3 linked regions of the Homo sapiens genome follow. The protein of the gene in region 2 interacts with the protein of the main gene of each other region in a biochemical or structural test. Each region holds a gene or a part of one and is shown on either strand. Other genes may lie near its edges. The genes, in order: CUL3, KCTD17 and TCHP.

Region 1 (3,748 bases), on a different chromosome or scaffold from region 2:
GACTAGCTAAAGAAATGTCTTCAGAGCAAGATAACTGGGAAATCTGCATTTCTTTTGCCATTTTTGTTACCCAACTTACACAATGCGCAAAGTGCTAAGCAACACTACAAAACACATTTACATCAACACTGAAGACCTGGGGAAATGAAATCCAACAATTTTATTGTAATGAGCTGTATTTTCTAAATTTCTCTTTTATTTTCCTGTTTTCATACAGTAAAGAAAACAAAACGCAGCACATTCACATTTTCCCGAGGAACTGTAAAGATGATCTCTACAGGGATAAACGTTGTAAAGCCTGAAGCTCAATCAACTGATGTTGGAAACTCTCAAAGGGAGTAAAGGCTTGATCTCAATGGTCTAGAACATGTACTGTAATTTAATAGAAGAGATGGTCGTCTTAATATTTAATGATTTAAAAGAACTTCCCAGTCCATGCGAAGAGTACAGTCCAAGAATAAATCAAATTTCTGAACGCATTTTATGCTACATATGTGTATACTTTGCGATCCTCAGGTGTTCGTGCCAAATATTCTCTCTCAATAAGTCCTTCAATACGTTTCTTAATAACAACTGGACTTGGTAAGAATCGCGCCTTCAACTGCTGAGTTACCTAAAAAAGAAAGTAGATAGTATTTTTATATAAACACATAAAAATTCGTATCTTTGAACAGAACTGATATGTCATTTTAACACTCAGAGACTGAACTTTACTAACTGGATTACCAAAGATAAAAGCACAGAAACTTTAAAAAGGTTCTGTTTGAAAATGTAATATTATGGTTACAACACACTTCCTCAAATCAGAATGTGAATGCTAAAGTGGATAGCAGTTGAATAATTGAATTAGTTGGAATTACAGTAGTGTGAGCATATGCCACCTATAGTTTAACCGTTTTGATGCTGTTATCTACTGAATTCTGAGTTATACTCAAAACTCACAGAACTTGGGTAGCCTATGTATTAAAGAACACAAACTCCGGACTCAGAGTACCTGGATAAACTCAGCTCTACCACTACTAGCTCTGGGACCTTGGCCCACTGGTGTGTACACTAAATGTGTTAACAGATGTAACGCCTTAGAATAAAGAATAATGCTGCCCAATCATAGTAAGTGCTTCTGTTGGTTTTTTCCAAGTACTATCAGGATTCTAAGTACTGTGCTATATATAATAATAAAATAATAACTAAAGCAGCAGTCATAGTCTGTCTATGCACTATTCATCTGTCATTTTGCATGTATGAGTTTATTTAATTTATTTTTTCTTTTTTGAGATCGAGTCTTGCTCTGTTGCCCAGGCTGGAGTGCAGCGGCGCAATCTCCGCTCACTGCAAGCTCCGCCTCCCAGGTTCCCACCATTCTCCTGCCTCAGCCTCCTGAGTAGCTGGGACTACAGGCGCCCACCACCACACCCGGCTAATTTTTTGTACTTTTAGTAGAGACGGGGTTTCATCATGTTAGCCAGGATGGTCTCGATCTCCTGACCTTGTGATCTGCCTGCCTCGGCCTCCCAAAGTGCTGGGATTACAGGCGTGAGCCACCGTGCCCGGCCTATTTAATGTTCTTAACCCTGCAAAATAAGTTGTCTCATTTTACAAACGAGGAAAATAAAGCCGGAGAAGAAAACTGACATCAACAAGTAGTAAATAACAGAGCCAACAGAGATGAATCTAAACCTTTCTGACCTCAAAGTCCATGTTCTTTGCTCTAATGCATCCATGAGCCAGCTTTGCTTTTACTCTTGTTGATCAGTTCATTTCCCAAAGCCACAATGGATTGATAATTCTTTGGAATCTGAAAATTCAGCACTTCATTCTGCAACTACAATTTATCGCCCTTCCAGGATTACCACTCCTGTATCGACAAACTTGCTCTCAACCCATCACCTGAGATCTCCCACCCTTTGCCCTTCTTTTCTTCCAGCCTATTAACAGCTCCTATCGACTTGCTCCCTCCCCTGTTTAACCGAGCCTAAACTGCATTCAAGATCACTTCTCTTGAAAGCTGCACTCTCAACAGGACCTTCTACTCCTGATTCTTTTGGTCCTATCCCATAAACACTATTTGATTAAACCTATATTCTATATGTACTACATCATTATCAACCTACCACAGAGGTCTTTGCTGAGTAAAGATGTAGTTGTTAACACCGTATGTGTACACCAGGAGTCAGCAAACTGCAGTCACAGGCCAAATACACCCCACTACCTGTTTCTGTAAAATTTTACTGAAACACAGTCACATGTATTTATTTATTTTTTATTAGTTTTTTTTTTTGAGATGGAGTCTCGCTCTGTCGCCCAGGGTGGAGTACAATGGCACGATCTCGGCTCACTGCAACCTTCGCCTCCCAGCTTCAAGCAATTCTCCTGCCTCAGCCTCCCGAGTAGTTGGGATTACAGGCACCCACCACCAGCTAATTTTTGTATTTTCAGTAGGACGGGGTTTCGCTGTGTTTGTCAGGCTGGTCTTGAACTCCTGACCGCAGGTGATCCGCCCACCTTGGCCTCCCAAGGTGCTGGGATTACAGGCGTGAGCCACCGCGAGTCACACGCATTTATGTATTATCTATAGCTGCTTTCATGCTACAATTGGCCATTTACAAAAACATCTGCCAATCTCTGGTGTAGACTAACACAAATTTATAGTATTCAAAAGTTCAGCAAGTTCCTGAGCACCATTCTTCGACAAGTATTATTTCAAATTTCTGACAATCCCCTTAAACTCCTCAACCCAGTCCTGCACCAAGCTCATATCGGGTTTCACATAGAGAAAAGAAGCCATTTCAATTTGAAGTTCTTTAAATACCCACCCTACACATGTACATTTATCCATACTTACACCAAATCTTGCTTAGCACATACCCCTGCACCCTGCCCTAGGTTCTCAGGAAGAGGCATGTTCAGTAACATCTGTGTCAGTACACTACCATCATCATACTCTCTATACAATCCTCACCTTTCCTTTTCTAGAATGTGGTATTTATCCCTTCATCTCATTTTTTTCAATTTAAGGATCCATTCTTTATTCATAGGATATAAACATGCTCAGTATCCTCCCATTTTGGGGGGGAAAAAGCCCAAACCCTTCAACTCTACACTGAATCCTCTAATACTACTCTCTCTGCCCTTTCCCTTGAGCCAGTACCTCAAAGAATAAGCCACTCTTGGTGGTTTCCACCTCCATTTCCTTCTCAAGGCACTACCACTGGATATCCACTTTCACGAGTCCAATGAAAATGTCTGAGAAAGTTAACCTGTCACGTAATTGCCAAAGTGTTTATTCAACTTGGTTTTTCCATGATTTTTTATATTACTGACCACTCACTCCTTGTAATTCTCTTCCCTTGTCATAGGACACTGTCATTTTGTTTTCTTTTCCTTCTAAAGCAGTGTTCTCAAATTTGAAAAAACATCAGAATCACCTACAGCTCGTGTTAAAAAACCAGACTCTTGGGCCCTATCCTCAGAGTTTCTGATTCAATTCTCAGGCTCTGGTGGAACCTAAGGATCTGTGTTTCTCATGAGTTCCCAGGTGATGCTAAGGTAGCTGTTCCAAGAACCACACTGTGAAAACCAGTGCTCTAAAGAGTTTCTGTTGTTACACTCACTGTTCCTAAAATAAGGGAGGGGTCTATCCCATAGTTCTTTCTTGCTCTCCATGCTAACACTGAGCAATTTAATCCACACCTGTAGTTTTAACTGCATTCTCATATAGCTAATTCCCAATGCAACTTCTAGCCCTCAT
Region 2 (3,748 bases):
CTCTAGTTTTGCTTTAGCTGACAATGGTCAAGGCCTCACTAAGTGCCAGCAGTCCTGCCAGTCTTTCAAGGCCACTTCACATCCCATCTCATTCACCCATTCATGCATTCAACATAGTAAATGCCAGGGACTGTGCTAGGTGTTTTTTTTTGTTTTCTTTCTTTCCTCCCTCCCTTCCTTCCTTCCTTCCTTCCTCCTTCCCTCCCTCTTTCTTTCCCTCCCTCCCTCCTTCCTTTCCTCTCTCTCTCTCTTTCTTTGACGGAGTCTCACTCTGTCACCCAGGTTGGAGTGCAATGGCATGATCTTGGCTCACTGCAACCTCTACCTCCCGGGTTCAAGTGATTCTCCTGCCTTAGCTTCCTGAGTAGCTGGAACTACAGGCGTGAGCCACCATGCCCGGCTAATTTTTGTATTTTTAGTAGAGAAGGGGTTTCACCATGTTGGCCAGGCTGGTCTCGAACTCCTGACCTTGTGATCTGCCTGCCTCGGCCTCCCAAAATGCTAGGATTACAGGCGTGAGCCACCGGCTGTTTTTTGGTTTTCTATCGTTTTATTTTTTTAAAATAGAGATGGGGGCCAGGCGCAGTGGCTCGCACCTGTAATCCCAGCACTTTGGGAGGCCAAAGTAGGAGGATCACTTGAGCTCAGGAGTTCAAAACCAGCCTGGCCAACGTGGTGAAACCCTATCTCTACTAAAAATACAAAAATTAGCCAGGCGTGGTGGTGCATGCCTGTCATCCCAGCTACTCAGGAGGCTGAGGCATGAGAATTGCTTGAACCCAGAAGGCAGAGGTTGCAGTGAGCTGAGATGGTGCCACTGCACTCCAGTCTGGGTGAGAGAGTGAGACTGTATCTCAAAAAAGAAAAAGAGAGAGAGAGAGAGAGAGAGAGAGAGAGAGAGAGAGATAGGGGTCTCACTATGCTGTCCAGGCTGGTCTTGAACTTCTATGCTCAAGCGAGCCTTGGCCTCCCAAAGTGCTGGGATTACAGGTGTGAGCCACCGCACCCAGCCTACGCTAGATGTTTATAGACATTTCATAACTTAATCTTCACAGCAATGCTCTGGGGTCACAACTGTTGTAAATCCCATTTGGCAAGAGAGAAAGCCAATCTCAGAGAGGAAGTTGCTCAGGACACACCTAGTGAATTTTAAGTAGCAGGATTCCAGTACACCTTTGATCCACTCCCTGCCAAGGAGAAAAGCTTTATGCAGAAAGCAGGGCATTGGGTGGTAACAGGGAAACTTCTCCCAGCACAGGGCCAGGCTGCCCAGTGTTCGGGCCAGCTGCGTGTGACATTGGATCAGTGAGAGGAGCCCCAGACCTCTCCCCCATAGGCCAGGACCAGGACTGAAACCAGTAAGGAGAGGAAGCTAAGGAGACAGCTTCCTCGTCAGCCCTTGTCCCTCCCTGGTCCCGGACCACATGAGGAACTGCTCCCTTCCCCCATCCTGAGGTCCACAGAATGACGGTTCCCCTCCGAGTTAACTGGGGAATAACTCAGAAAGCCACCCGCAGAACCAATCCCTCCTCCTTCTTAGGGAGGACGTGGAAAAACTGAGAAAGGCCAAAAGCCAGAATGGAAACTCAGTTCTCCTGACTCGGATCCAGGGCGTGCTCTACTCTTCCTCCTTAGAAGTCTTTCCCAAGGATCCCTGACATTCCATGGTCAGGGAGCAGGAAAGAGACCTTGGTGGGTACTCACTCACCAGCAATGTGAGTAGGGCGGTCACTTCGCTTCTGTGGCTTCATCTGTAAAATGGGTATAGCCCAAAATACCAGACTCACAGGGCTGCTGAGAGCTTAAATTCATAACACATATACACAAAGTGTCTGGCATACAGGTGCTCAGCCAACCTCAAGTCCAGCTATGTCGTTCTCCAAGAACTCAGGTGAGGGAAAGAACCCACTCCCACCCACCCCGCCCCCACCCCTATACACACAAAGGGCAAATGAAAAAATATGACGAAACACATGCGGGTCAATGCTATGGGGATTCCTGGAGGGGAAAGTTTCTTCCCTTATCAGCTGTTGGACGACGGAGACGGCACAAAGGAAAAACAAGAATGCTCGGACCCATGGGATGACTGCAGATTTGGGGAAGCCCTCATTCTTTTCCCAGAGGCCGGGAGTTCGACCTTCCCCATACACAGTGATTTGGCCAGAGGGCATCTTCACCACCCCAGACTGCGGGCCTGCGGGGAAGGGCGAAGCGGGGCGGGACCGGGGGCGGGAGCAGCGCGGGGCGGGACCCTACCCGCGGCCCACGCGGAGCCAGGAGGCGCGGACTACAGCTCCCGGCCTGCCCCGCGTGCGGTCCCCGCCCGCCCCCAGCGCCCGGGAGGAGGATGCAGACGCCGCGGCCGGCGATGAGGATGGAGGCCGGGGAGGCAGCGCCGCCGGCGGGGGCGGGCGGCCGCGCCGCAGGCGGCTGGGGCAAGTGGGTGCGGCTCAACGTGGGGGGCACGGTGTTCCTGACCACCCGGCAGACGCTGTGCCGCGAGCAGAAGTCCTTCCTCAGCCGCCTGTGCCAGGGGGAAGAGCTGCAGTCGGACCGGGTGAGGCCCCCGGGGTGGGCGGCGAGCGGGCGGTGGGTCCTCCGCTCGCCCGACGCGGGGCTGTCGGGCCTGGCTCGCCCGCCAGGCTGGGGACCCGGCCGGGTTCATTTCCGAGGAACTGGAGGCGGGAAGAAGCGGCAGGAGGAGGGGAGGGGGAGGTGGGTCTGGTAGTGAGGGATGTACCCATTGCCGTGGCAACGGGACGACGCAGGCCGCGGCCATTAGAAGCTCTCCAGCCGCCCCGGATCGGGGCCTCTCCTTCTCCTTTGGGGCTGTGGACAGGGAGAGACCTGGGACCTTTCCTCCCTCCCAAAGGGGACTCCTGCTCTGGGGAAGGAGTCGACGAGGCTACTTCTCCCGCTCTTTGGGATGTGGGTGGCGGAGGGGTGCAGGGAGCTAGCTGGATGGAGGAGCCCTGGGGCGCCTTCTGAGCGGGCTGAATCTAGAAGGAGCGTTGGCCCAGCGGGCACTATTTCTGAGCACCCACCCTGACTCTGCTGCACACTGCCTGCCGCGACCTTGAGTCGGACCCTTCCCTGCACTGCGCTCAGCCTCCTTCCTCATCTGTAACACGAAGGGCTGGTCTGAAGATGACCTCTAAGGTCTCCTGTCCCCCATCCGTGACCCTCCGATGCTGTGGCCTTTGGCAAGTCGCCTCACCTCTCAATGTCTCCGATCTCTCTGTAGAGTCGCATGGAAGCCCACCCTGCCTCCCTGCCCGCCCGAGTGTCCAGTGAGATAGTGACTCCTTTGGAAACTTGTAAACATCCCCTGAAAGCCTAGGGACCTGGGGGCGACAGTGGGGCTGGCTTCAGGGGACAGCCTCTCAGAGGGACATTCTTCGAGCCCTGTGCTGGGCCAGTTGCCACTCAGACATCCTCTCACCGGATGCTCACAGCAAACCCTGATTAGGGGGAGAGGAGTGAGTTTCAAAGAGGCCAAATCATTAGCCTAAGGTCACACATTCAGGAAGAGTCAGAAGCAGGGCTTGAACTCAGGTCCATCTGACCCCAGTGCCTTTTTGCTACTTTGTGCCTGCTCCATCCAGGGAAGAGCTCTCCCTCCACTCTCCTTCCCTCCCTGTGCGTGTGCGGGGTTGGCTGGGGAGAAGCCTCACTCTTCTCTCACCGAGCATCCCTCACCTCCATAGGATGAGACCGGGGCCTACCTCATTGACCGTGACCCCACCTA
Region 3 (3,748 bases), on a different chromosome or scaffold from region 2:
ATCCCAACACTTTGGGTGGCTGAGGCAGGAGGATCACTTGAGGCCGGGAGTTGGAGACCAGCCACATCATGAGACTCATCTCTATAAAAAATCAAAAATTAGCCAGGAGTGGTGGTGCGCCTGTAGTCCCAGCTACTCAGGAGGCTGAGGCAGGAGGATTGCTTGAGCCCAGGAGGTCACGGCTGTAGCGAGCCATGATAGCGCCACTGCACTCAGCCTGGGTGACAGTGAGACTCTGTCTCAAAAAAACAAAAACATAAAAAATTCTGGACTGCGTGCACCCAGCTGTGGGCCAGCCATCACCAGGAACACAACAGACAGACACAGGGATTGTCCTAAGATTGCTAGACTAGGCACATCGGGGGCATTTATGCTGTGCTTAAACAGAGACAATAATGTAAGGAACACATGTATGTGCCAAGCACTCAATACATATGACTTTTTTTCATTCTTACAATCACCTCGCTATTTGGCAGGTAAGGAAACTTACGTTGAAGAGGTAAAGTTGTTGTACCCGAGCGAGTTAGAGAAACGCCACAGTTTGAGACGAAATTAAGAGTCCTTTATTTAGCCAGTGCCCAAGAGACGGCTAATAAATTCTCTTGGCCCGAGGAAGGGGCTTGATTTTCCTTTATACTTTGGTTTAGGAAGGGGAGGGGAGCTCAGATGCAACAATTCTACATAAGTAAAAACATGCAAAAATTAAAAGGACAAAGAGTCACAGAGAAACAATTAAAAGACAAATGGTTACAGAGAAACAACAGTTCCAGGTGCAGGGGCTCTAAATCTTTCATAAAATGTTAGATATGGGTGCTCTGCCCGACACCAACTCAAGGTTTTATGGTGTTATCTTTTGAGCAAAATCCTGGGAACTTCGTACATTGCTTGTTTCAGTACCTTATCAGTTAATTGGACTCTTTGATATGTTGAGATTCTGCTTACACAAGTTAACTCCTTGAGGAAAGGGGTGGGTAAGGAGTCCTTGATGTCTTGTAAATGAGGGAACCAGATGGAGTTCATCCGGCTTTCTCAACTAAGGGAGAGCTAATTCATGTGGAAACAAGGCTAGGTGATTAAGGGGAAAAAAAGAGTCTAAAAGCAAGGTTAGTAAAAACAAGGTAAGGCATTAAAAAACAAGGTTAGTAAAAACAACGTTAAGCATTACAAAGTGATTTGCTCAGGATCACAGAGCCAGGAAGTAAAGGAGATAAACAAGCTGGGTTCCTAATTCATGTCCGTCTGAGACCAGAGCCCAGGCTCTCTCTGCTGCAAGGGGCTGCCTGTTGGGACCAACCTGCCCTGGCTCTGGCAGTCCCCGGGGAGGGGACTGATAATAACACTCGGAAGTATGTTGGGCTACCATGGAGGACAGACCTTTCATCTTGCAGATGAAGAAGCTGAGACCTAGAGAGAGGAATTGCCTGAGCAATGTAGGGATACAGCTGGAGCCTTGAAAGCAGAGAGCAGTCTCACTCCAGGCACCAATTCCCCTGACCCAAAAGCTGTCCTCAAGTGTAGGGTCGATGCAGTGCCTGGGTAGGAACGCCGGCTGAATGAGCGAAAAGGCCTGGTGCACGCCAAGAATCTCATTCTGGAGGTCCTCCAGTTTTGGGGGCAAACACTCTGCGTCTATGGTCCAAATGTAGCCGGCAGGCTGCTAACGTGTGACCTCGGTCTCGAGACCGTGGCAAGCTTCACATACTTTTTTCCCGCTCCCGTAAAGCCGCCAGTGGATCAGTCTTTGCACCAAGAGTTAAAAGTTTAAGATTCCCGTCCCGGATTGGCCACCCACAAGGTGGGCTGCTCCCCGAACACGTCGCATCCCTCTCTCGACCTGAACATGCACGTGCAACAAATGGGGTCACAGCGCGTGGGGAGCGCAGTGAGGACCCCGGAGGCGCCCTGAGCTCGCGCCCGCTGACTGCCGCCCCGGTTCCCGCCCGCGCGGGCCGCCTGCGGGCCCCCGCCCTAACGCCGGATCCGGCCTAGTCCAACCCTCCGACTCACATTTCTCTGAGGCTCGGAGTTTCCGAAGAGTCCCCCGGCCCGACTTCCCGCAGGCACGAAGCGGGCCGGCCAGTCCCCCGGTGTAATTCCCAGACGCGCTACAGCAACGCCGGCTGTTTCCTCCCTGTTTGCACCGGCAACGAGCCCGACGACGGAGCGTCGCAAGGGCCAAGCCTCCTTCAGCGCGTAGGGAGCCTGTGTTTTTCTCTGGTGCCCCGTCGTGGCCAGCGGGAGATAAATAGCAAACGTCGCTGCTCCTTGAAATAGGGAAGCATGGAGGCAAAGAATCCGTCCATGCACTACACGTATTTCAGGATGGTGGTTACCATCACGTGAAGGTGAAGGTGGAAACCAGGGGGAAGAGAATGTAAGTCAGTGGTCCTCAAACCTGGCTGCGCGTGAGAATCACCAGATACCAGCCTGGGCAACACAGAGGGACTCCTGTCTCTAAAAAATTTTTTAAACTTAACCGGGCATGGTGGGACTTGTGGTCCCAGCTACTCGGGAGACTGAGGCGGGAGGATCAGTTGAGCCCAGGAGATCGAGGCTGCCGTGAGCCATGACTGTGCCACTGCACTCCAGCCTGGGTGACAGAGCCAGACACTGTCTCAAAAAAAAGAAGAAAAAATCCAGATACCTTTAAAAAATCCAGATGCCCAAACCAAACCCCAAATCCCATCTGAGAGTATCAGTGTTTTCCAAAATTCCCCAGGTGTGTTCAATGTACAACTTGGGCAGAGGCCTGCTGGCATAAGTAGATGGAAGTTATTGGTAACTTTTTTATTTTTTTGAGACAGAGTCTTGCTCTGTCGCCAGGCTGGAGTGCAGTGGCGTGATCTCGATTCACTGCAACCTCCGCCTTACGGGTTCAAGCGATTACCCTGCCTCAGCCTACCGAGTAGCTGAGACTACAGGCGCACGCCACCACGCCCAGCTAATTTTTTGTATTTTAGTAGAGATGGGGTTTCACCATATTGGTCAGGATGGTCTCGATCTCCTGACCTCGTGATGCGCCTGCCTCAGGCTCCCAAAGTGCTAGGATTACAGGAGTGAGCCACTGCACCCGGCCGATAACTTTCTATTATAGTCTTATATTGGTGGTGAGTTCAAAAGTGTTCATTCTATTAGTATGTTTTATAACTCGTGTGCTACAAGTATTACATGCCAACTATTCCATTAAAAAGAAAATGAAGAAAAATACTTGTTTGTTCTCTTTTCTTTCATTTTCCCATTCTTTCATTTCTTCTTCCCTTCATTTCTCCATTCTTTATTCATCTCTGTTTTTCCTGGATGCAGCATCATGGCCTCAGCTGGGTTCAGTGGCTTACGCCTGTAATCCCAGCACTTTGGGAGGCCCAGGAGGGTGGATTACCTGAGGTCAGGAGTTGAAGACCAGCCTGGCCAACATGATGAAACCCCGTCTCTGCTAAAAATACAAAAATTAGCCGGGCATGATGGCAGATGCTTATACTCCCAGCTACTCGGGAGGCTGAGGCAGGAGAATCGCTTGAACCTGGGAGGCAGAGGTTGCAGTGAGCCAAGATTGCGCTGCTGCACTCCAGCCTGGGTGACAAAGTGAGACTCCACCTCCAAATTAAATAAATAAATGAATACATAAATAAATAAATAAAATTAGCAGGCTGTGGTGGTGCACACCTATAGTCCTAGCAACTTGGGAGGCTGAGGTGGGAGGATCACTTGAGCTCAGGACAAGGAGGCTGCAGTGAGCCGTGATCACACC

Evidence for each region.
Region 1: the proteins of KCTD17 (region 2) and CUL3 form a complex in vitro, tested with the Homo sapiens proteins (3 studies listed by BioGRID).
Region 3: the proteins of KCTD17 (region 2) and TCHP form a complex in vitro, tested with the Homo sapiens proteins (one study listed by BioGRID).

Annotation. Positions count from the first base shown.
Region 1 is NC_000002.12:224,473,764-224,477,511, forward strand, and holds part of CUL3 (cullin-3), read right to left. Parts: intron 614-3,748; coding exon 482-613; 3' UTR 1-481. UniProt on the Homo sapiens protein: Core component of multiple cullin-RING-based BCR (BTB-CUL3-RBX1) E3 ubiquitin-protein ligase complexes which mediate the ubiquitination and subsequent proteasomal degradation of target proteins.
Region 2 is NC_000022.11:37,049,393-37,053,140, forward strand, and holds the start of KCTD17 (BTB/POZ domain-containing protein KCTD17), read left to right. Parts: upstream 1-2,349; 5' UTR 2,350-2,368; coding exon 2,369-2,557; intron 2,558-3,707; coding exon 3,708-3,748. UniProt on the Homo sapiens protein: Substrate-adapter for CUL3-RING ubiquitin ligase complexes which mediates the ubiquitination and subsequent proteasomal degradation of TCHP, a protein involved in ciliogenesis down-regulation.
Region 3 is NC_000012.12:109,898,686-109,902,433, reverse strand, and holds the start of TCHP (trichoplein keratin filament-binding protein), read right to left. Parts: upstream 2,161-3,748; 5' UTR 2,008-2,160; intron 1,858-2,007; exon of another isoform or gene 1,375-1,857; intron 1-1,374. UniProt on the Homo sapiens protein: Tumor suppressor which has the ability to inhibit cell growth and be pro-apoptotic during cell stress. Inhibits cell growth in bladder and prostate cancer cells by a down-regulation of HSPB1 by inhibiting its phosphorylation.